Homo sapiens: one gene and its partners. The protein of the gene in region 5 purifies or fractionates together with the protein of the main gene of each other region. This does not show direct contact. Each region holds a gene or a part of one and is shown on either strand. Other genes may lie near its edges.

The links.
Region 1: the proteins of CLEC10A (region 5) and FAM241A purify together in Homo sapiens (affinity purification with mass spectrometry; 3 studies listed by BioGRID and IntAct, with this or other methods). This does not show direct contact.
Region 2: the proteins of CLEC10A (region 5) and GNG10 purify together in Homo sapiens (affinity purification with mass spectrometry; one large-scale study listed by BioGRID and IntAct). This does not show direct contact.
Region 3: the proteins of CLEC10A (region 5) and GOLM1 purify together in Homo sapiens (affinity purification with mass spectrometry; one large-scale study listed by BioGRID and IntAct). This does not show direct contact.
Region 4: the proteins of CLEC10A (region 5) and HS6ST2 purify together in Homo sapiens (affinity purification with mass spectrometry; one large-scale study listed by BioGRID and IntAct). This does not show direct contact.

What each region holds. Positions count from the first base shown.
Region 1 is NC_000004.12:112,192,424-112,196,192, reverse strand, and holds the end of FAM241A (uncharacterized protein FAM241A), read right to left. Parts: 3' UTR 937-3,769; downstream 1-936.
Region 2 is NC_000009.12:111,667,198-111,671,375, reverse strand, and holds the end of GNG10 (guanine nucleotide-binding protein G(I)/G(S)/G(O) subunit gamma-10), read right to left. Parts: intron 2,108-4,178; 3' UTR 1,150-2,107; downstream 1-1,149. UniProt on the Homo sapiens protein: Guanine nucleotide-binding proteins (G proteins) are involved as a modulator or transducer in various transmembrane signaling systems.
Region 3 is NC_000009.12:86,075,032-86,079,648, reverse strand, and holds part of GOLM1 (Golgi membrane protein 1), read left to right. Parts: intron 1-307; 5' UTR 308-328; coding exon 329-457; intron 458-2,057; coding exon 2,058-2,237; intron 2,238-4,617.
Region 4 is NC_000023.11:132,667,864-132,672,480, forward strand, and holds part of HS6ST2 (heparan-sulfate 6-O-sulfotransferase 2), read right to left. Parts: intron 2,026-4,617; exon of another isoform or gene 1,700-2,025; intron 1,337-1,699; coding exon 1,250-1,336; intron 548-1,249; exon of another isoform or gene 411-547; intron 1-410. UniProt on the Homo sapiens protein: 6-O-sulfation enzyme which catalyzes the transfer of sulfate from 3'-phosphoadenosine 5'-phosphosulfate (PAPS) to position 6 of the N-sulfoglucosamine residue (GlcNS) of heparan sulfate.
Region 5 is NC_000017.11:7,073,733-7,078,064, forward strand, and holds the end of CLEC10A (C-type lectin domain family 10 member A), read right to left. Parts: coding exon 4,265-4,332; intron 3,256-4,264; coding exon 3,160-3,255; intron 3,073-3,159; coding exon 3,001-3,072; intron 2,421-3,000; coding exon of another isoform or gene 2,340-2,420; coding exon 2,253-2,339; coding exon of another isoform or gene 2,244-2,252; intron 2,154-2,243; coding exon 1,999-2,153; intron 1,735-1,998; coding exon 1,628-1,734; intron 1,491-1,627; coding exon 1,322-1,490; 3' UTR 805-1,321; downstream 1-804. UniProt on the Homo sapiens protein: C-type lectin receptor involved in recognition of N-acetylgalactosamine (GalNAc)-terminated glycans by myeloid antigen presenting cells (APCs).

The DNA of each region.
Region 1 (3,769 bases), on a different chromosome or scaffold from region 5:
GTAATACCCAGGGAGGGTGTTTTCCTTTTGTACCTGTTTCTTCTTAACCTTTATTTATATGTTCTGTTTACATACATAACTCTTGTGCCCTTTAAAACAGAAAATATATTAAAAAATTATGACTTAGGGTCCTTCAGAAGTAGCCTGCTGTGGCTACCTGGTGCTGTGGCCTCATGGAAAAACTAATCATGACTATTTTTAGAATTTTATACCTAAAAAATGAGGAAAACATTAACAGAAACAATCATGACAGACCAGAGAAGGGCATTCAGTAGATGGTACATATTTTCAAATATGGATAATGTCATTACATATCCTGCTACTCCCAGAAAAATCTTTTAAAGTGTTTGTCTTAACTGTGGTATTAATAAGTACATTGTATATAAAATTTTCTTACGTTAAACACCTCACATTAAAAATAGACTATAAACTAGCCTCTTATAATACTGGGGGAAACCAATAGCAAAAAAGGTCCATGGTTTTATGATACAAGTTACTGTATTCTATGGTGTTTTGGAAAACTGGCAAAGAAATTTCCAACTAAGTCAATTAAAGATTAAATGATAAACTTTAATTGCTGAAAAGATAACTCAAATTTAATAAACATAAATATGTTTTGGATCGCTAGCAGGCTTCTGCAGAGTTTATTCGATAATTCTAACTTACACAATAGTCAAGCCAACAGAAAGAAGAAAAATACAGCTTGGAGGCAGAGGTTGGTCTTGATCTTGGTTTTCCCACTTCTCCTTTCCTGGGAAGCCATACATGTCATGTCTTGGCATTCTGTTCCAGCAATAGGGATAAGGAAAAAAGATAACCTCTGTTCACCCTCAGATGTTTGTTGTTGCTTTGGTCATTCCAAACTGGATGTGGCAGCCATTAACTGGTAAGTAGAACATGTGATAGGGAGTTGGAAGAGACACTCAGAAGGCAGAGTTGTAAAAGAGTATTATTTATTAGAAAGAATAACAAAGTATATACATGTCATTTAACACATATGTCTGGGCTACTAGGACACTGTAATAGTGGATTTCTTCTGGAGCCTAAAACACCACGCTTCGATACTTGAGAATTTCTGCTCACAAAAAAGTTTAAGAGTTTTTTGTAAAAATTAAAATGTAGGCCGGGTGCAGTGGCTCACGCCTGTAATCCCAGCACTTTGGGAGGCCGAGGCGGGCGGATCATGAGGTCAAGCGATTGAGACCATCCTGGCCAACATGGTGAAACCCCGTCTCTACTAAAAATACAAAAATACAGGCATGCCAGCATGTGCCTGTAATCCCAACCACTCCTGCTGAGACAGGAGAATTGCTTAAACCTGGGAGGCGGAGGTTGCAGTGAGTCGAGATCGTGCCACTGCCCTCCAGCCTGGCAACGGAGCGAGACTTCGCCTCAAAAAACAAAACAAAAAATTAAAAATAAAAATCCTCAATAAAATACTGGCGAACCAAATCCAGCAGCACATCAAAAAGCTTATCCACCATGTTCAAGTGGGCTTCATCCCTGGGATGCAAGGCTGGTTCAATATACGCAAATCAATCAATGTAATCCAGCATATAAACAGAACCAAAGACAAAAACCACATGATTATCTCAATAGATGCAGAAAAGGCCTTTGACAAAATTCAACAACGCTTCATGCTAAAAACTCTCAATAAATCAGGTATTGATGGGACGTATCTCAAAATAATAAGAGCTATCTATGACAAACCCACAGCCAATATCATACTGAATGGGCAAAAACTGGAAGCATTCCCTTTGAAAACTGGCACAAGACAGGGATGCCCTCTCTCACCACTCCTATTCAACATAGTGTTGGAAGTTCTGGCCAGGGCAATTAGGCAGGAGAAGGAAGTAAAAAGTATTCAATTAGGAAAAGAGGAAGTCAAATTGTCCCTGTTTGCAGATGACATGATTGTATATCTAGAAAACCCCATTGTCTCAGCCCAAAATCTCCTTAAGCTGATAAGCAACTTCAGCAAAGTCTCAGGATACAAAATCAATGTACAAAAATCACAAGCATTCTTATACACCAATAACAGACAAACAGAGAGCCAAATCATGAGTGAACTCCCATTCACAATTGCTTCAAAGAGAACAAAATACCTAGGAATCCAACTTACAAGGGACGTGAAGGACCTCTTCAAGGAGAACTACAAACCACTGCTCAATGAAATAAAAGAGGATACAAACAAATGGAAGAACATTCCATGCTCATGGATAGGAAGAATCAATATCGTGAAAATGGCCATACTGCCCAAGGTAATTTATAGATTCAATGCCATCCCCATCAAGCTACCAATGACTTTCTTCACAGAATTGGAAAAAACTACTTTAAAGTTCATATGGAACCAAAAAAGAGCCCGCATCGCCAAGTCAATCCTAAGCCAAAAGAACAAAGCTGGAGGCATCATGCTACCTGACTTCAAACTATACTACAAGGCTACAATAACCAAAACAGCATGGTACTGGTACCAAAACAGAGATATAGATCAATGGAACACAAAAGAGCCCTCAGAAATAACGCCGCATGTCTACAGCTATCTGATCTTTGACAAACCTGAGAAAAACAAGCAATGGGGAAAGGATTCCCTATTGAATAAATGGTGCTGGGAAAACTGGCTAGCCATATGTAGAAAGCTGAAACTGGATCCCTTCCTTACACCTTATACAAAAATTATTTCAAGATGGATTAAAGACTTACATGTCAGACCTAAAACCATAAAAACCCTAGAAGAAAACCTAGGCATTACCATTCAGGACATAGGCATGGGCAAGGACTTCATGTCTAAAACACCAAAAGCAATGGCAACAAAAGACAAAATTGACAAATGGGATCTAATTCAACTCAAGAGCTTCTGCACAGCAAAAGAAACTACCATCAGAGTGAACAGGCAACTTACAAAATGGCAGAAAATTTTCGCAACCTACTCATCTGACAAAGGGCTAATATCCAGAATCTACAATGAACTCAAACAAATTTACAAGAAAAAAACAAACAACCCCATCAAAAAGTGGGCAAAGGACATGAACAGACACTTCTCAAAAGAAGACATTTATGCAGCCAAAAAACACATGAAAAAATGCTCACCATCACTGACCATCAGAGAAATGCAAATCAAAACCACAATGAGATACCATCTCACACCAGTTAGAATGGCGATCATTAAAAAGTCAGGAAACAACAGGTGCTGGAGAGGATGTGGAGAAATAGGAACACTTTTACACTGTTGGTGGGACTGTAAACTAGTTCAACCATTGTGGAAGTCAGTGTGGCGATTCCTCAGGAATCTAGAACTAGAAATACCATTTGACCCAGCCATCCCATTACTGGGTATATACTCAAAGGACTATAAATCATGCTGCTATAAAGACACATGCACACGTATGTTTATTGCAGCACTATTCACAATAGCAAAGACTTGGAACCAACCCAAATGTCCAACAATGATAGACTGGATTAAGAAAATGTGGCACATATACACCATGGAATACTATGCAGCCATAAAAAAGGATGAGTTCATGTCCTTTGTAGGGACATGGATGAAATTGGAAATCATCATTCTCAGTAAACTATCGCAAGGACAAAAAACCAAACACCACATGTTCTCACTCATAGATGGGAATTGAACAATGAGAACACATGGACACAGGAAGGGGAACATCACACTCTGGGGACTGTTGTGGGGTGGGGGGAGGGGAGAGGGATAGCATTAGGAGATATACCTAATGCTAAATGACGAGTTAATGGGTGCAGCACACTAGCATGG
Region 2 (4,178 bases), on a different chromosome or scaffold from region 5:
GTACCTAGCCCAGAACAGCTATTGAATTTTATCAGATGACTTTTTGGCATAGGTTCCCTTCTTTAAGTGATTCAAGTAATGAATTACATTGATAGATTTAGTTATGTTAAAGTAGTTTTATCCGGCTGTACTTTCTCTAACTACTGAATTTTATCTGTTTATATCTAGGACATTTGCATCTATATTCATCTATAAGTGAGATGCTTATAGTTTCATTGTGCTATCTTACCAAATGTTTGCTGAAAGGGGAAAGTGGAATCAAAAAAGAATTTTGTTTTTCAATGAGGATTTTAAAAAATGCTGTTGTTGTTAAGACAGAATGGAACATGCTAAATTGTGATAGAAAGGGTCCACTGGAGGCCAGACACAGTGGCTCACGCCTATAATCCCAGAACTTTGGGAGGCTGAGGTGGGTGGATGGCTTGAGCTCAGGAGTTCAAGACCAGCCTGGCGACATGGCGAAATCCCATCTCTACAAAAAATACAAAAATTAGTCGGGTGTGATGGTTCACGCCTGTAGTCCCAGCTACTTGGGGGCCAGAGGTGGGAAGAACACTTGAACCTAGGAGATTGAGGCTGCAGTGAGCCGAGATAGCGCCACTGCACTCCAGCCTGGGTGACAAAGTGAGACCCTGTCTCAAAAAAGAAAAGAGAAGAGAAGAAAAGAGAAAATAAAGCATCCAGCAGAGAACTTGAAGATGAAGGAGAAAGGATCACTGGTAGTGTGCAATTTCAGAGAAGGTGAAACAGATCCAGAGAACAAATAGGTTATAAAAGGGATGCCTGAATTATGACTGAATGGAAGGGATTCCAATCACTAGATCTAGAAGTTTAGTAGCTAAAAGTTAAGGGAGTTCCCATCTAATAACTTCTATTTTCTCTATTGTAACACTACTTACACTCACAGATATTTTTGTTTATTTATGAGTTTATATATAGCTATTTCAGAGAACAAATGTTGCCATTAATAGAGATATTTTCTTCATGTTATACAGTTATCTATTTTTCAGGACATTTGCAAAATTCTACAAAGACTTAAAAACAACAATTTCACTCTCTCATTCCAGCACTCAATCTCACAGGCAAACAGAAATCCTTGAGTCCTTAATACAAAATCAGACACAAAATATTGCTGTCATAGAAAAATGATTAATTAAGCAGAAATTTTATTTCCAAGCTCTTCAAAGACCGTTGCAAACACGAATAATGTATCCTTCTAAAAAAGTGTCCCAAATTAAATCAAAGGCACATCGTCGAAGTAAAACACTTGTGAAGTTAAGAATTCTTTTAGGTTGTAATATTTTCATGTTAGTTTTTAATCATTTACAATGTTCTGTGGGTCACATTTTAAACATTTTTAAATATATGAAATTCTGTATTTCTTTAAGTACAGCCACAACTACAAAGCAGAGAAACGTAAGAATACAAAAATCAAATCTGCTTCATTTATATACACGATGGGGCAGCCTAATGCACATCATAACATTAACTTTTCCAAAGAAGTTTGCTAAGAATCTGCTCCCATAATTAGTGTTAAAAATAAAGCAATCTTCCCATTTAGAAAAATCAAGACATCAGTTGATTAATAAAGCCTATTCTTCCTCCCAGCAATTTGTACTTTCTGGTCTTCATTTAGGAATTATAAATTCATGACAAAAGAACAAATTTTTTATGGAATAAATAACTTCCAGGAACAACAGTTTATAAGTATTCAGTTGTTTAAATAAACAAAACTATTTTCCTTCCTAAAATGTAAACATCCAGTAAATGAAACATACATGATATTCCAGGTATAGAAATCTTAGTAACTCACTTATGAAAGAGGTGCATTTTGGTATGTTTGGTGGTAAGGTTTTTGTTTATCTTATGTATAAAAGTACTTGCACAAAAAAAACAAGCAGTTATTACTATTTAAAATTCTATTCCTTCACCCAGTTTTCTCACTCAAGTAGAAACTCATGAATATCTGTGATTTTGGCTATAGGACCAGGCCACAGGAAAGGGCTGAAATATCTCTAAAAGTTAGGGAAAAGTGTTTTCTTGAGACTTGAAGGCAGTCATTCATCACTTTGTGCTTGAAGGCATTCCTCAGCAAACTTCTCTCCTACTGGAAAAAGAGTTTGTTTGGTTTTCACTTTAGTAAGATTTCTTTATAAAATTAACTAGTCATCATTTAATAGGGTACTTTAGTATTCACGAAATAGAAAGCAACAGGTGAGCTAGGCGCGGTGGCTCACGCCTGTAATCCCAACACTTTGGGAGGCCGAGGTGGGTGGATCACCTGATATTGGGAGTTCAAGACCAGCCTGACCAACATGGAGAAACCCTGCCTCTACTAAAAATACAAAAAAATTAGCCGGGCATGGTGGCGGGCACCTGTAATCCCAGCTACTAGTGAGGCTGAGGCAGGAGAATCGCTTGAACCCGGGAGGCAGAGGTTGTGGTGAGCTGAGATCGCACCATTGCACTGCAGCCTGGAAACAAGAGCAAAACTCCGTCTCAAACAAAAAAAAAATGAAAGTAACAGGTGAATACAAAAGACATCTAAACCACACCACTGAATGAGCAGCACCCATGAAAGTGCTTTGTAAGGCCGGGCGCAGTGGCTCACGACTGTAATCCCAGCACTTCGGGAGGCCGAGGCAGGCAGGTCACCTCAGGTCAGGAGTTTGAGAACAGCCTGAGCAATACGGTGAAACCTCATCTCTCCTAAACATACAAAAATTAGCCAGGCATGGTGCTGCACACCTGCAGTCCCACCTACTCGGGAGACTGAGGCAGGAGAATTACTTGAACCTGGGAGGTGGAGGTTGCAGTGAGCCAAGATTGTGCCACTGCACTCCAGCATGGGTGACAGAGTGAGACTCCATCTCAATTTAATAAAGAGAAGGAAGGAAAGAAGGAGGGAAGGGAAGGGAAGAAGAGGGGAGGGGAGGGGAGGGGAGGGAAGAAGGAAGCTTTGTAAAAAGAAAAATGCTATGCCAACATAAGACTATTATCTTAACACCATAAATATGAACATTTTCCATTAAAAAGTACAATAAGATTTGATAGATTGCTTCCTTCTTTTAAATGTGAACAATTTCCTTTTGCTACTTGTGAAGAAGGACCTAAGATAATTACTCACTGTATAAACACCCCTTAGAACACATCATTTGAAATATGTTGGTCCCAAAAGACTCTAATAATTCATGCCCTTGTCCTCTTAAAAAAACATTGTGTCACGCCTGTAATCCCAGCACTTTGGGAGGCCAAGGCAGGCAGATCATGAGGTCAGGAGTTTGAGACCAGCCAATTCAAGACCAGCCTAGCCAACATGGTGAAACCCCATTTCTACTAAAATACAAAAAAATTAGGTGGGCATGGTGGCATGCGCCTGTAATCCCAGCTACTCGGGTGGCTGAGGCAGGAGAATTGCTTGAACCCAGGAGACAGAGGATGCAGTGAGCCAAGATCGCGCCACCGCACTCCAGCCTGGGTGACAGAGCAAGATGTCTCGGCGATGAGGGGGGAAACACATTGTGAAAATGACCCCAATACAAAGCATTCGAACCCAAGAAGTTTCTAATATGCCACCAGAGAGGTGTTTTCATTTATCAATTTTTAAAGCTCTTTTAACCCCACTCACACTTTTTCCCAATAGCTATATTTCTTCCTCCATTAAAACAGAGATATATTCTGAAAACCATTGGGAAAGAAATCACAGCGGGTGGTAGGCACACATCTCCCACTCTGGGGAGTCCTTATTCCCAAGAGTAGCAAGTCAGTTGATAGCACTAAGTAGCAAATCCCAACCCTTGGATGCTATAAGGACAGAGAGGGTGGGCTTAAGGTCAAGAAATTACTGGCCAGGTGTGGTGGCTCACACCTGTAATCCCAGCACTTTAGGAGGCCGAGGCGGGTGGATCACCTGAGGTCAGGAGTTCGAGACCAGCCTGACCAATATGGTGAAACCCCATCTCTATTAAAAATACAAACATTAGCCGGGCGTGGTGGCAGGCACCTGTAGTCCCAGCTACTCGGGAGGCTGAGACAAGAGAATTGCTTGAACCTGGGAGATGGAGGTTGCAGTGAGCCAAGATCATGCCACTGTACTCCAGCCTGGGTGACAGAGCGAGACTGTCTCAAAAAAAAGAAAGAAAGAAAGGAAGAAATTACTACCAGCCAACTCAAAGAGC
Region 3 (4,617 bases), on a different chromosome or scaffold from region 5:
CTGAAGTGTAAGAGGAATCATGTCTTGCCCCAGGTCTCGAGCTAATCTGTGGCAGGTTTCGGGGCGGTGCCTGCTCCTCCGAGCCTGTCCTGGGAACTGGCCACACTGCCCTGGGTTCACAGCACCATGGGCTCTGTGCGTGCCGTTCACATACTCTTCTCCCTTGACAGCTTTGCACGTCAAGGAGAAGCTACCAGCCCACGCTTCTTGGCAAGACTCCTTTCCTCTTGGTTGTAAGGATGATACGGTCTGCTTCGGAGATGATAAAACTAGTATTGATGTTTATTTATTTGCTTTTACTTGGCAGATTCTCAGCGCTGATTTTGAGATGATGGGCTTGGGAAACGGGCGTCGCAGCATGAAGTCGCCGCCCCTCGTGCTGGCCGCCCTGGTGGCCTGCATCATCGTCTTGGGCTTCAACTACTGGATTGCGAGCTCCCGGAGCGTGGACCTCCAGGTGTTTTGTTTTCTTTATTGTTATGTTTATTTTATGTTTATGTTTTGTTTATTTTGTTATGATGGGGTCCCAGGGGTTTGTTGTTTATTGCCAGCCAGGGCGTTTTGTGCAGGGCACACGCTTGTAAGGTGAGTTTAGGGCTCTGCACACCCCCACAGCCCTGGGCCAGACCCCAAGCAGCTTTGGGTGGGAGAGGTCCCCTCTGTGGTTGTGTAGGATTGCGGTTGTGGTATCCCTCCCTGCCTTTCCTGTGAGTTAACAGCATTCATTTGAGCTACTGGGGTGGTTCTGGGAAGACAGCTTGCTTACATACACTGGCCATAGTCCGTTGTTTGCGGTCCTCCGGCGCCCAAGATATCGAAGAGTAGTATTGGAAGTGTGCTTGGATGATGGGTGTAAGAAATATGTTTTTAAAGGTACCAATCTTTATCTTCATTACTTAATGATAATAATAATTTTAACTTCCTCATTTACCGGTGCAGTCATGGGTCAGGTGCAGTGCTGAGCAGTGACAAAGATGCTCCTCTTGATTGAACTTGAGTCGGGCCCTTCTGAGCCGTCTTCTTGACTAGGCCTTGATCTTGGCACCTCCCAACTCTCACTGCCTGTCTTTGGCCTGCCCAGCCCAGTCCTAGCAAAGGATCCCGCTAAGCCATCCTTCTACCCCTGATCCTTGACCAAGTTCCTCATCCCTACCCTTGCTGTCTAAGTCCTTGGCCTGTGTTTAGCAAGAATCTTGTTAGGCCAGTTTAGCAAGAATCCCCCTACTCTGGGGGCGATTTCCATCCACTGACTCCCCGCACTGTGCTCGTTGGCTATAAATCCCTAGCTGTCTTTGATGTGTTCGGCATTGAGCACAATTTCCCTCTCCTATTGCAATCGTTTTGAATAGTCTTTCTTACCATTTTAATGAATGTCAGAATAATTTCTCTTTCACAGTACTTTATACAAATTATCTCCTTTTGTGCACAAACCCTACAAGGCTGGGACTTGACTTTCCTCATTTCACAGGGGGTCAGACTGAGGCACCAAGAGGTTGAGGTGGAGCAGGGATTCCAACCTGCATGGGCTTAGCCGTGGCACCCCAGCACGTCTGTGCTCTGTCCTGTTCTCACACTTACCCTCCTGGGCTTGTACTCCCTGTGTCTCAGCTTCCACGGGAGTTCCTGTTCTCTGGGCAGATGAGGTCTGCTTGTCTGGAGTTGGAGAACTGAATCTGTTTTCAGAAATTGTATCTGCTAAAGAGTTGTTAAGTGCTTTGTTAGCAGCGAAGAAGAACTAAATATTTGAGCATCATCTTATGCCAGGTAAAGCATGAGGCATTCTGTGCACTTAGCACATTTAAGCCTCACAAAAACCCAGTGGGAAGTGTGGTGTGAGTGCACAGAGCCTTCCTTCACTTACACTGACAGAGACCATTTTTTCCAGAAGAAACCGCTCCAGCTTCTGTCCAGTTGACTTAAAACACAGCCTTGGGCACTTGTGTGTATAAGACTGGTGCTGGCCCTGGGCCCCAAGGTGGTCTTTGTGGAGGGCGCTCAGGTGGTCCAGGCTCCTCAGGTAACTTGGCATCAGCCCTAATGCCACGGTCTCCTTGTAGACACGGATCATGGAGCTGGAAGGCAGGGTCCGCAGGGCGGCTGCAGAGAGAGGCGCCGTGGAGCTGAAGAAGAACGAGTTCCAGGGAGAGCTGGAGAAGCAGCGGGAGCAGCTTGACAAAATCCAGTCCAGCCACAACTTCCAGCTGGAGAGCGTCAACAAGCTGTACCAGGACGAAAAGGCAAGGCCTGCTTTGTTTCCTCTCAGTTCTTTTCTAAGGGATGGTGTCTACATTGTCTGTTTCTTCTTGGCGGGAGGATGAGCAAGCGGCTGGGTTTAGATTTATGTAATTATGTGGAAAGAGCCTATTGATCAAGCTTTGGGCATTCTCTCCCTTTCCCCTCCAAGTCCCTGGCTGGGCTTGCGGTGAAGCCTTTTGCAGTGGTAATAAACAGGAGAAATGCAGAAGAACAATTTCAGATTCATCCTCCTATTGGCTTTTTTTTTTCTCCTATTGGGTTTTTTCTTCCCACTTTCCACAAACATGTATTAAATACCTACTCTGTGCCAGGCCTATGCCAGGTGCTTATATCTCAGAGAAAAATAATATTTGTGCCCTCCAAGTATCTAATGGAGGAGAGGAGAGGCAGACTCTACTAAATACTAACAGAGAAAGTAGGGGACTGCACCCTTGCTTTTAAGCTAGGAAAAAAACCAACAAATCCTGCGTAGATTTAAAGGGGCCTTCCTGCTAATTAAAATATCTAAGCTTTATGTGTCTTTTTTTTTTTTTTTGAGATGGAGTTTGGCTCTGTCGCCCAGGCTGGAGTGCAATGGTGCAATCTTGGCTCACTCTGCCTCCCGGGTTCAAGCGATTCTCCTGCCTCAGCCTCCTGAGTAGCTGCGATTACAGGTGCCTGCCACCACGCCCAGCTAATTTTTATATTTTTAGTAGAGATGGGGTTTTCACCATTTTGGCCAGGATGGTTTCGATCTCTTGACCTCGTGATCCACCTGCCTCAGCCTCCCAGAGTGCTAGGATTACAGGCATGAGCCACCGTGCCCGGCCTGGTTTTCTTATGTAGGAATATATGACTATACTTTCTTTATTAAATTGTGTAACTGTGTGAGTTACTAATATCTCCTGTCCCAGAGTGCATCAAACTTTGGCCTCTATTATTAACTAGAAAAATTTGGCTTTTTTTTTTTTTTTTTTTTTTTTTTTTTTTTTGAGATGGGGTTTCCCTCTTGTTGTCCAGGCTGGAGTGCAATGGCGCCCTCTTGGCTCACTGCAACCTCTGCTTCCCGGGTTCAAGCAATTCTCCTGCCTCAGCCTCCCAAGTAGCTGGGACTACAGGCATGTGCCACCACGCCCAGCTAATTTTTTGTATTTTTTAGTAGTGATGGGATTTCGCCATGTTGGTCAGGTTGGTCTCGAACTCCTGACCTCAGGTGATGTACCCGTCTTGGCCTCCCAAAGTGCTGAGATTACAGGCATGAGCCACCGCACCTGGCCTGAAAAATTTGGCTTTTATAATGCGTGTACCTCTCTCTCTGGAGTGGCTAATTTATTGGAAGAATGTTGTAGCTCAACTTCCATTATCTTGAATTGTCTCAGAAAATGAATTATTTCCAGGAAGGGACTCAGACTTTTCTCGCATAACTGATTTAAAATTCAAGAAGTACTTTTTTTGTTGTTTAATTTGCAGAGTACTTTCCTATATTTGCAAGCTCATATTTCTTCTCTGGGAATTGTGCATAATGTTGTTGTAATAAAGTGCTTCTTTATGTTTCTTCCCTTTTCTTACTGGTGAGATATGCTTTTTGTGCTCCTGAAATCCCCTTTAACCTCATCTCTCAAAAAGAAAAAGAAAAAAAAGAGCATCAAGTAGTTATTTGAAAAGAGAATCTGTTTCCACAGTTTTTCTCTTTTAGAATATGCGATATAAATGTCTTTTCATTTTGGTGAGCAAGGGTGGGTTCTCACATCAAACCTTAGCTGCAGGAGGATTTTAGCTGTGGTTTGGTGGTAGGAGGCATGGAACTTGTGAGTCAGGCAGACCCGGGTTTAAAGTTCCCTCAGCTGTGTGATTTTAGGCAAGTCACTTAAATTCTCTGGATCTGTTTTCTCAACTGTCAAGTGGAAATGAGAAAGGAATCTCACAGGGTGCCTGTGAGGATTGAATGAGATAATATTTATAAAGCGTTTAACCCAGTGCTCAACCTAGAATGAAAGCTCAGCAGCTGGTGGTTGGTATTATTACACCTAATTGTACCAACGGCAGTCGAGGCCATGATCACAGCAGCAGTGGTGGGCGCAGTCGTAAGCCACCGCAGCAGCGGTGATAATGTTATCTCTTTCTGTATGGACTTTGTCTTAGTCTGTTTAAGGCTGCTATAACAAAATATCATAAACTGAGCAGCGTATAAACAACAAGTATTTATTCTCACAGGTCTGGAGGCTGGGAAGTCAGAGATCAAGACGGGGCAGATTCATCTGGTGAGGGCCCACTTCCAGGTTCATGGATGCCTTCTTCTTGCGGTGTCCTTGCCTGGTGGAAGGGGCAAGGCAGCTCTCTGGGGCCTCTTTTATGGCACTAATCCCATGTATGAGGGCTTGA
Region 4 (4,617 bases), on a different chromosome or scaffold from region 5:
CTGGGAATGTGTGCATCAATTCCCTTCCTTCATAATTTATACAGCATTTTGATTATGGTGCTCAGCAATAAATAACTGAAATGAGTTCTAACTGCTTGGAGATTTAGTTTTATGTCTTTAACACCGTTTTTTATATTTTGCAAGATAACCCGCATTCAACTTTATATGCAAACCTGAAATGGTATTCAGAGGAAAAGAAGGAAAAAAAGGCAGCCAGTAGATCTTTCACTTTGGGAATTGAATATAAGATCATATTCAAAGTGCAGCATTTACGGTCCAATGCTGAATACATAAAATATATGACCATTACAAATTCACCTTTCATTGCAAAGCTGTGCTCTTGTAGTGACATATCTTATTGCTAGATTAGAGCTTTTAGCATGATGAAGGTATCTTTCATTTTCTCCTAGATGCAGGCTGGGTGCTCTTTCTGGACTGAGTTTCTGCGTGTCACAATGCCCCACACCCTGGAGAGAGAGCTTACGGAGAACTCGAGCCATTCACCACAGGGTTGAAGCAACTTCCAAGGGGAAGTGTCTAATTAGAGGTATGTCATCTGCGTGGGATCACACTGCCTGAGTTTGCCACACTTTGCTGAAGCCAAAGGGAGAGATCGGCTGGTGTTGTCTTCTGGAATAAGCCCAGAAAAGGTCAATCTAATATCGCAAATATTCAGCCCATACAAGTTTTGGTAATACCAAAAAAACAGCTTCATGTAGGACTTGGTGCATATTAGTTACTAGGAAAAGAATATACATATCATATAAATCAGTGATATGGTTAAAACATAAATGTACTTAAACCAGGAAATTTATGGAAAAGCTTACCAGATTCTTCTAACTCAAGCCTAAACTCAGTGTATGGATCAGGACAGGTTTTCATGGACTTTGTAAGTCATAAATCAGTGCTGCTGCTGCTGCTGCTTTAATTCTTAAAACTTGTAATCCAACTCTTACATTGCCCTTATGGACTTATGTCCTTGCCCTTCACAGTCAGCCCTAAGCTATCTTTCCAGAGTCATCTCCTGACTTTTCCATCCCTCTCCTCCCTCTTCCCTAGTTCTTCATGCACCCAATATTACTGACACATGCCTTGCTCGTTTCAATTCCCCAGTGACGAGCCCAGTGGGAGGCACACAGAAGACATTCCACAAATCTTTGTTGAATGAATATGAATAAATGACAAAAGGAGGACAGCACTTGACTTTTTGACAGCTATGTCAGATGTACAGGAGCACTTTTTCACTTACTTCCCACTCTTAGATGTGTTCCGGGTCTTTGTGGATGACGGAGAGTTGGCGCCTGCGTTAGTGTTTGGAGAACCCCGTTTATCCTTACTATACCCACAGAAAGAATAGAAAACATATACACAACAAGGACCACAGAGACAAAAAGCAATTAGTCACTTCATTTAAAGACTCTCAAGGCCAGCCTGCATATCCCCCCACCACCCCCTGGCCAATCTCTCTCTCTCTCTCTCTCTCCTGTCAAAGTATGATCTTATCCAGTTGTGCCCTTTAAAGGTAGAGAGTGGGAACCACTGGTCAAGTTCAAAGAAAGCTATCCTTTTGGCATTCAAAGCTTGAGCTCATGGATTCCATCAATGATAGCACCACAGCCCAGGCCCCAAGGGGGCCTCTAGTTTTAAAAAAAAAAGTATAAAAATAACTAGTCTTTAAAATAAAATCCTTTCTTTCCAGGCACTGAATTCTCTTCATTACATGTTCAGTTCTGAAGCTGCTGACTTTTGGTGAAGTATGTGGATGCCAAATGACTTCTAAAAGTCTTTGGGAGATACTATCAGATGAATTAATAATTTTCACTCATAATGTTACATGGGAAGTCCGTGAATTCAGATATTCTTTCAGGAGAATCACCACCTGCTTCATAGTAATTGAATTTAAATCTCCACCTTCAATAACTCCACAGCTTATGTCAAACCTTGGAAACAATTACGAAATAAATCACAAGGAAGGCCTGCTTAATCTCATCAGGTTAATAAACGCAGACGAATTAATCACCTAAAGGTAAACAAAAAGGAATAATTGATTGGAGTCTTCTTGATTACTTTATTCTATTTCCTTTATCAAACTATTTTACCATTATCTTCAGTTCAGCTGCTCTGCCTTGAAATTATTCCTTTACTTCATCTTCAGATTTCCATGGAAACCAATTCAAAGCCTTTCTCTCCACTTGAAGATGTGTGGAATTATTTATCCTGATTTCATCAGGAAGATTTTTTTTTTTTTGTTAGTAAGTTCTACGTCAGCATAACCTTTTATAAAAAGTGAAGGTAAGAAAGAAAAATATGTATCTTTGCTTTTAATGTGTATAATAGAACCTTCCAGTGGCAAAGAATATTGTCTCAGAAAATGTCAAACATCTTTTCAGATATTTATGAACCTTTTAAGTATCTCCAAAATAGATGTCTGCAAGTAGCTGTATTTATATGTGGGGTGGGCTGGGGGTCACAAAAGATATTCTGCCATGCACCCATCAGCTTCAAATGACTTCATGGATATGATTGGAACAAGAGATAATGATGGGTTCCTGGTGATTGCAAAGGTAATAAAGATGTGTGTGGGCATGGAAAAAGGCTGATCAGGAAAAGTCAGAGAGATAGCAACTGTCCAAGCACTTAAGAGTCAGTGTCTAGGCTGGGCGCGGTGGCTCATGCCTGTAATCCCAGCACTTTGGGAGGCCAAGTCAGGCGGATCACGAGGTCAGGAGTTCGAGACCAGCCTGGCCAACATAGCAAAACCCCATCTCTACTAAAAATACAAAAATAAAAAATAAAAAATTACCCAGGGCATGGTGGCGGGCGTCTGTAATCCCAGCTACTTGGGAGGCTGAGGCAGGAGAATAGCTTGAACCCGGGAGGTGGAGGTTGCAGTGAGCCAAAATTGTGCGATTGCACTCCAGCCCGGGCAACAGTGCGAGACTCCGTCTCAAGAATAAAACAAAACAAAAAACGTCTAGGGGGTATGAAAAGCAGCTCTTAGAAGTGGGAGATACCCATGTGAGCTCTGGCTCTGCTGCTGGAGTGGATGGCTCTGGAGAGAGTGGACACACATTCTATCCCAGAGGAGGGGGCAGAAATCCACTGGAATGAAGTGCTGGGATTCCTGCACAGTGCAGGGACCATTACCCCGTACCACTCACAGACTCACCAGAATGTGGCCACATTCTGAGTGGGGACTGAAGAATTCATTTGGTGCTGCCTCTATCCGTCCTCGATGACTTCCTGGCAAAGGATTCCTTAGGGACCTGAGACCAGGGACCATCCTGGCTATCCTCCTCACAAATTCAAAATTGTCTCTTCCAGAAGTTTGGCATAGCCTGATGCAAAGAATGCAATATGCTAATATGCTCTGTGTCACTCTTGCACCCTGGTCACTGGCCACTGAGCCTTCCTCCTCCTAGCCCCTCACTTAAGCAGTAGGCAGTGGGAAACTTGGCTGGAAGCATTCAGATACAAGGGATGTTTTTGATGTGTCTCATGCACACTACTGGGCTCAGAGTAGGTGGTCATTTAAGTCATCACTAAATCACTAAGTGCTGAGTCACTAAGTTCATTCATTCACTTTTTTTTTTTTTTTTTTTGATAAAGCAAAATCCCCCACTGCTAAATTCCCATGTCTGCGCCTTGGGCACTAGGGTCCTCTATAGTTTACATTATAATTGACCCTGTTTAAGCTCAATGCAGGACACAGTAGGACATCAGGGAAAGCTATCAGCTGGCAGCGGCAGCCTCATTATTGTCAACTGGTGCTCTAGCGGGAGGTGGTCCTGGAGCAGTAATCCTTTAAAAGATAGGAATAAGGGCCCCTCTAACCTACTGCCAAATCCCCCAAGTACAGATATTGGGGAAATGAAAACAAAAACATTCTCAGGAATAAATCACACAGGGAAGGCATTGCACCAAGAATAGGGGTAAAATTAATCAAGTAACTGGAAATGTTTGTTCTGTGCAAATAACAGATCCATTAACAGTGATGAAATGTATCTGAAAGGGGGATCAAGAAGAACTTGTGGCTGGCTTGGATCCTCGGAGCTTAATTTTGTAGATGTACTAATGACTGTGGTATAGAAAAGTTTACCTAACATTGACAGAAAAAGTCTTCATTCCTCCACCAAAATCCAGGTCAGTTAGATAAGCCTGGGCAAGATGCCATAATTCTGAAACTTTGAGAGAGAAGGAGATCTAAAGCAGTGATATCAAGGACACTGCAGTTTCTAGAAGGGTCCCATGAAAAATAAAGAGAAAATACTGCAGCTGCAGACTGTCTGGGAACTTCAAAGATCTTTGGGGCAAAGACCTAAAGATTAAGATCCTGCCAAGAACTCTGGTCACTGAAACATCCCGCAATCCCAGGGATTTACAAGAATAAATCCAACCTGTTTCAAAGACACATAGATATAATTTTGGATATATGAGATTGGTGGGGGGGGGTGGGTGCTCCTTGATTTAGAGTTCCTAACTTACATAACCGAAACAGATCTACCCCAGTAGTTATTCTTTTGATTTGCCCATCTCTAGACTACTTGTCAGCCCTCATCACTTTCATCTTGTCTTTGAATTGTAATCTCAAACCTTATGTCCTACAATTTCCAAGGC
Region 5 (4,332 bases):
AAAAAAAAAAAAAATCAAAATAGCTGAGATGCTTCCCTGGTATATGCTGGATTGATTGAAAAAACAGAAATCTCCACCCCTCTCTATATCCATTCTCTACACAGTATGACTTTGTAGACCCCCCCCCAACCCCCCACCAAAATGTGGAATCTATTTCTCTGGCCCTTGAACCTGGGCAGCCTTGCAATCTGCTTTGGCCAATAGGATGCAGCAAAAACGATGCTTCAGTTCCAAGCAAGGCTCTGAAGTCCTTGCAGTCTTCCAATTTCTCTCTTGGACCCCCACCCAGCCATTCTGTGAACAAGGCCAGGCTAAGCTAATGTGGCCCAGTCATCCCCATTGTCCCAGCCCAGAGCCAGCCAAATATGAGACATGGGAGCAAGGCTACCCTAGACCAGCCAACCCCAAGCCAACCCACCAGCTGACCACGGACGCATAAACAAGCCCAGCCAAGATGACCCAAACCTGGCCAGACCAGACCTATAGCCTCATGAGCTATAATAAATGCTTACTGTATAAGCCCTGAGCTTTGAGGTGGTTTGTTACACACCAATTGCTAACCAATACACCTGGGGATCTTATCTACATCTCCCAACAACTCTGGGATCTTCAGAGAAATTAAACAATGGCTTTTCCTAATCACCCTAAGTTTATACCATCTTTAAGTGACAGAAAAGATTTGAACTCAAATCTATATGAGAAGAAAATGCTATTTTCTCAATCACATAGGACTTTCGAAGGCTTCACCTGGCTTCTCCACTCTGCCATTTTTAGATTGCCAAAAATCAAGCAACACAAAGTACGTAAGTTCTCACGAGAGTATATATTCACTTATATGAAGTATATACACGAGAGTGTATGATTTCACTTATATGAAGTTCTAGAAGCTCTAGAAGAGGCAAGGCCAATAAATAGTGAAAAAGAAGTAGATCACTGGCCTGGAAACAGGGAAGTGGTTGGACTGCCCAGAGGCATGAGGGGACTGGTGGGGGCGATGGCAATGTTATCTATTGCGATCGGAGTGGTAGTCACCTAGGCATGCATATTTGTCAAAGTCATCTCTACTCTTTAAATGAGTGCATTTTTATTATGTAAAAATTATACCTTCATGAAGTTGACTTTCAAAAGTTGGAAAAAAAATAAAAGCTTAAGAACACTATACCATCTTTTTAAAATTAAAGAGAAAAAAATTCAAAATGTTAGCAGTGCTTCCAATCTCCCAGTGCTTATTTCTCTCCCAGAGCGGTCTTGCGAGGAGGTCGTGAGAAGAGTCCTCCTCCCACCGCCATTTCTGTGGCCGGGTGGTCCCACCAAAGGCAGCTCAGTGACTCTCCTGGCTGGTCTGACCCAGGCCAGCCTCGCAGACCCAGTGGTAGGGCCTCTGGCAGACGTCGTCATTCCACCTGCCGTCTGGATGGAAGTGAGCACAGTCCTCGCCTCCACCCAGCCCGTGCCCCTGCCAGTCGTCTGGCTGGCCTGGCTTCCAGTTCCTGAGAGGAAAAGACAACAGCAAGCTAGGAAGGGTAGATGGAGTAGAATTCAGTTCAGGGGAGGAGAGGCTGCCAGTCAGATCCCTGGGGGAAACGCTGACGGAGGACATTGGCACAGAAAGCCAGGGTGCACTCACTGGAAGCCGGTCGCATAGTCTGTTCCATCCACCCACTTCCAGGCTCCTTCAGGGTCACTGAGGCCCATCCAGGTGTATGCGGAGCCTAGATATTTCTGGACAAAATTCTGCGGTGACAGAAGGGCAGTGGTGACTTCTTCCCATCCCAGCCAACTCCTTAAACTAGTGATTCTCAACTTTAGCTCTTCGTTAAATCAACTGAGGAGTTTGGAGATGTTTCTCTGGATGCTCAGGCCTATTAAATCTCTGAGGGTGTGGCACAGATGACAGTCATTCTGGAAGCTCCCAGATGATTCCAATGTGCGGCCAAGCTTAAGAACCATTTCCCTAAATGGGACATGTCTTAGGAACTGAGTACCAGAAGCCCTCACCTGCTCCTCCCTGGAGTTGATGACCACCAGGTGGGCGTTCTTCAGCTGGCAGTACTTCTCAGCCTCGGCCCAGGACATCCCAGAGTGAGAGAACCAGTAGCAGCTGTCTTGGTGCTCCACCCAGTTGACAGGGCAGCAGGTCCCTTCAGTGGAGGCTGATTGGGGAGAAATAGGATAGGGTGGAGAGGCTGAGGCTCTGCCCAGTGGGCCATGGGCAGAAAAGTAGGGCCAGGTACTCCCCATACCTTCCTCACCATTGTTGTTGAGAGTAGCCACCTGGCAGGTCAGTTTCTTCAGGTCTTGCACCAGCTGCTGGACTCGCAGGAGCATTTCAGAATGAACTGGGACACACACAGATGGGCAGTGGGGACAGTGGCCTAGGTGTGCCTTCTGCGTAGTGTGTTCCTGGAGCTCAGATACCCCTGCACAGGGCCAAGCCAGGGAATGTTCCTTCCCGCCCCCACCCACCCCCTACATCATGGCCAGGTACAGCCATCAAATCTGCTTTGGATTCCTCTGCCCCTGTTTCTCCAGCCTGCTCTCCAGAGAAAGCATGCTGCCTTTCTTTCTTTCTTTCTTTTTTTTTTTTTTTTTTTTGAGACGGAGTTTCACTCTTGCTGCCCAGGCTGGAGTGCAATGGCGCGATCTCGGCTCACGGCTACCTCCGCCTCCCGTGTTCAAGCAATTCTCCTGCCTCAGCCTCCCTAGTAGCTGAGATTACAGGCGCCCACCACCACACCCAGCTATTTTTTGTATTTTTTTTAGTAGAGACGGGGTTTCACCATGTCGATCAGGCTGCTCTCGAACTCCTGACCTCGTGATCCACCCGCCTCGGCCTCCCAAACTGCTGGGATTACAGGCGTGAACCACTGCGCCCGGCCTGCATGCTGCCTTTCAAGCTGCTGGCTGAAGGGGAGGGCAGTTCAGCACCAGGAGTCTGTTCCCACCTCCACTGTGTCTGAGCGCCTAGCCCCCCACACCCATACTCGGAGGGTCTCTCACCTGCCTGCCGTTCCTGCTTGAAACCCTCCACCTCAGCTTTCAGAGATGCTATCGTTTCTTCCAAGCTGCTGCCTGGAGGACACGGAGACTTGGCTTAGGGGTCAACTTCCTCCTCCCTGGCCTGGCCCCAGCCCAGAGCCCCATCCAAACCAGACTCACCCTGGGAAGTCAGTGCCTGGATCTCCGCCACAGTGTTTGAGGTGAAGTTGCTAAAATCTGTTCTCAGGGTCACCAGGTCCCTCTGAAATTTGGAATCTAAACAGGTGGATGGGAAGGTCAGTGCTGGGATTCATCAGGTCCTCTGTACCAGCACCGAGCAGGGCCCTCCATAAGCATTGCCTTATTGGGTCCTCACGGCAACCCAGTGGGGCAGGCACTATTATTGTTCAATATTGCCGATGAGGAAACTAAGCCTCAGAGAGGTGAAGTAATTTGAGTACATAACCCAACTACTCAGTGACAAAGCCAGCAGCCATCCTGACTATGGGTCCGTCAACTCTCTCCATCACTACCCCCACCACCGTCCCCATCAATCACTCCATCAGTGCCCCCCCACCATTCCCATCAATCACTCCATCAGTGCCCCCATCACCATTCCCATCAATCACTCCATCAGTGCTCCGACCACTGTTCTCATCAATCACTCCATCAGTGCCCCCCACTATTCCCATCAGTCACCCCATCAGTGCTCCCATCACCATTCCCATCGATCACTGCATCAGTGCCCCCCACCATTCCCAACAATCACTCCATCAGTGACCCCCACCACCATTCCCATCAATCACCCCATCAGTGACCCCCCACCGTTCCTATCAATCACTCCATCAGTGCCCCCCCACCATTCCCATCAATGACTCCATCAGTGACCCCCAACCATTCCCATCAATCACTCCATCAATGCCCCCCACCATTCCCATAAATCACTCCGTCTGTGCCCCCACCACCGTCCCCATCAATCACTCCATCAGTGCCCCCCTACCGTTACCATCAATCACTCCATCAGTGCCCTCTCCTCCATTCCCATCAATCACTCCATCAGTGCCCCATCAGTGCTTCAGTGGCTCTGTTGTGACCCCCATGACTGTTGGTAGCACTGCCCTCACCATGCCCCATTGTTATCTCCACAGCTGCCCCCAACACTGTGCCCTGCATTGCTCCTACTGTGGACCTCACCATCGCCCCACCACTGCCCTACTGTAGCACCCCATTATTTATCTTCTACCCCATTATTTCTCTCTTCCCTGTCCACCCCTGTGACCCTCACTTTGGAATCCAACCACACAGATGATGACCAGCAGCAGGAGGCCGAGGCCCAGGGACAGCAGGAGATGG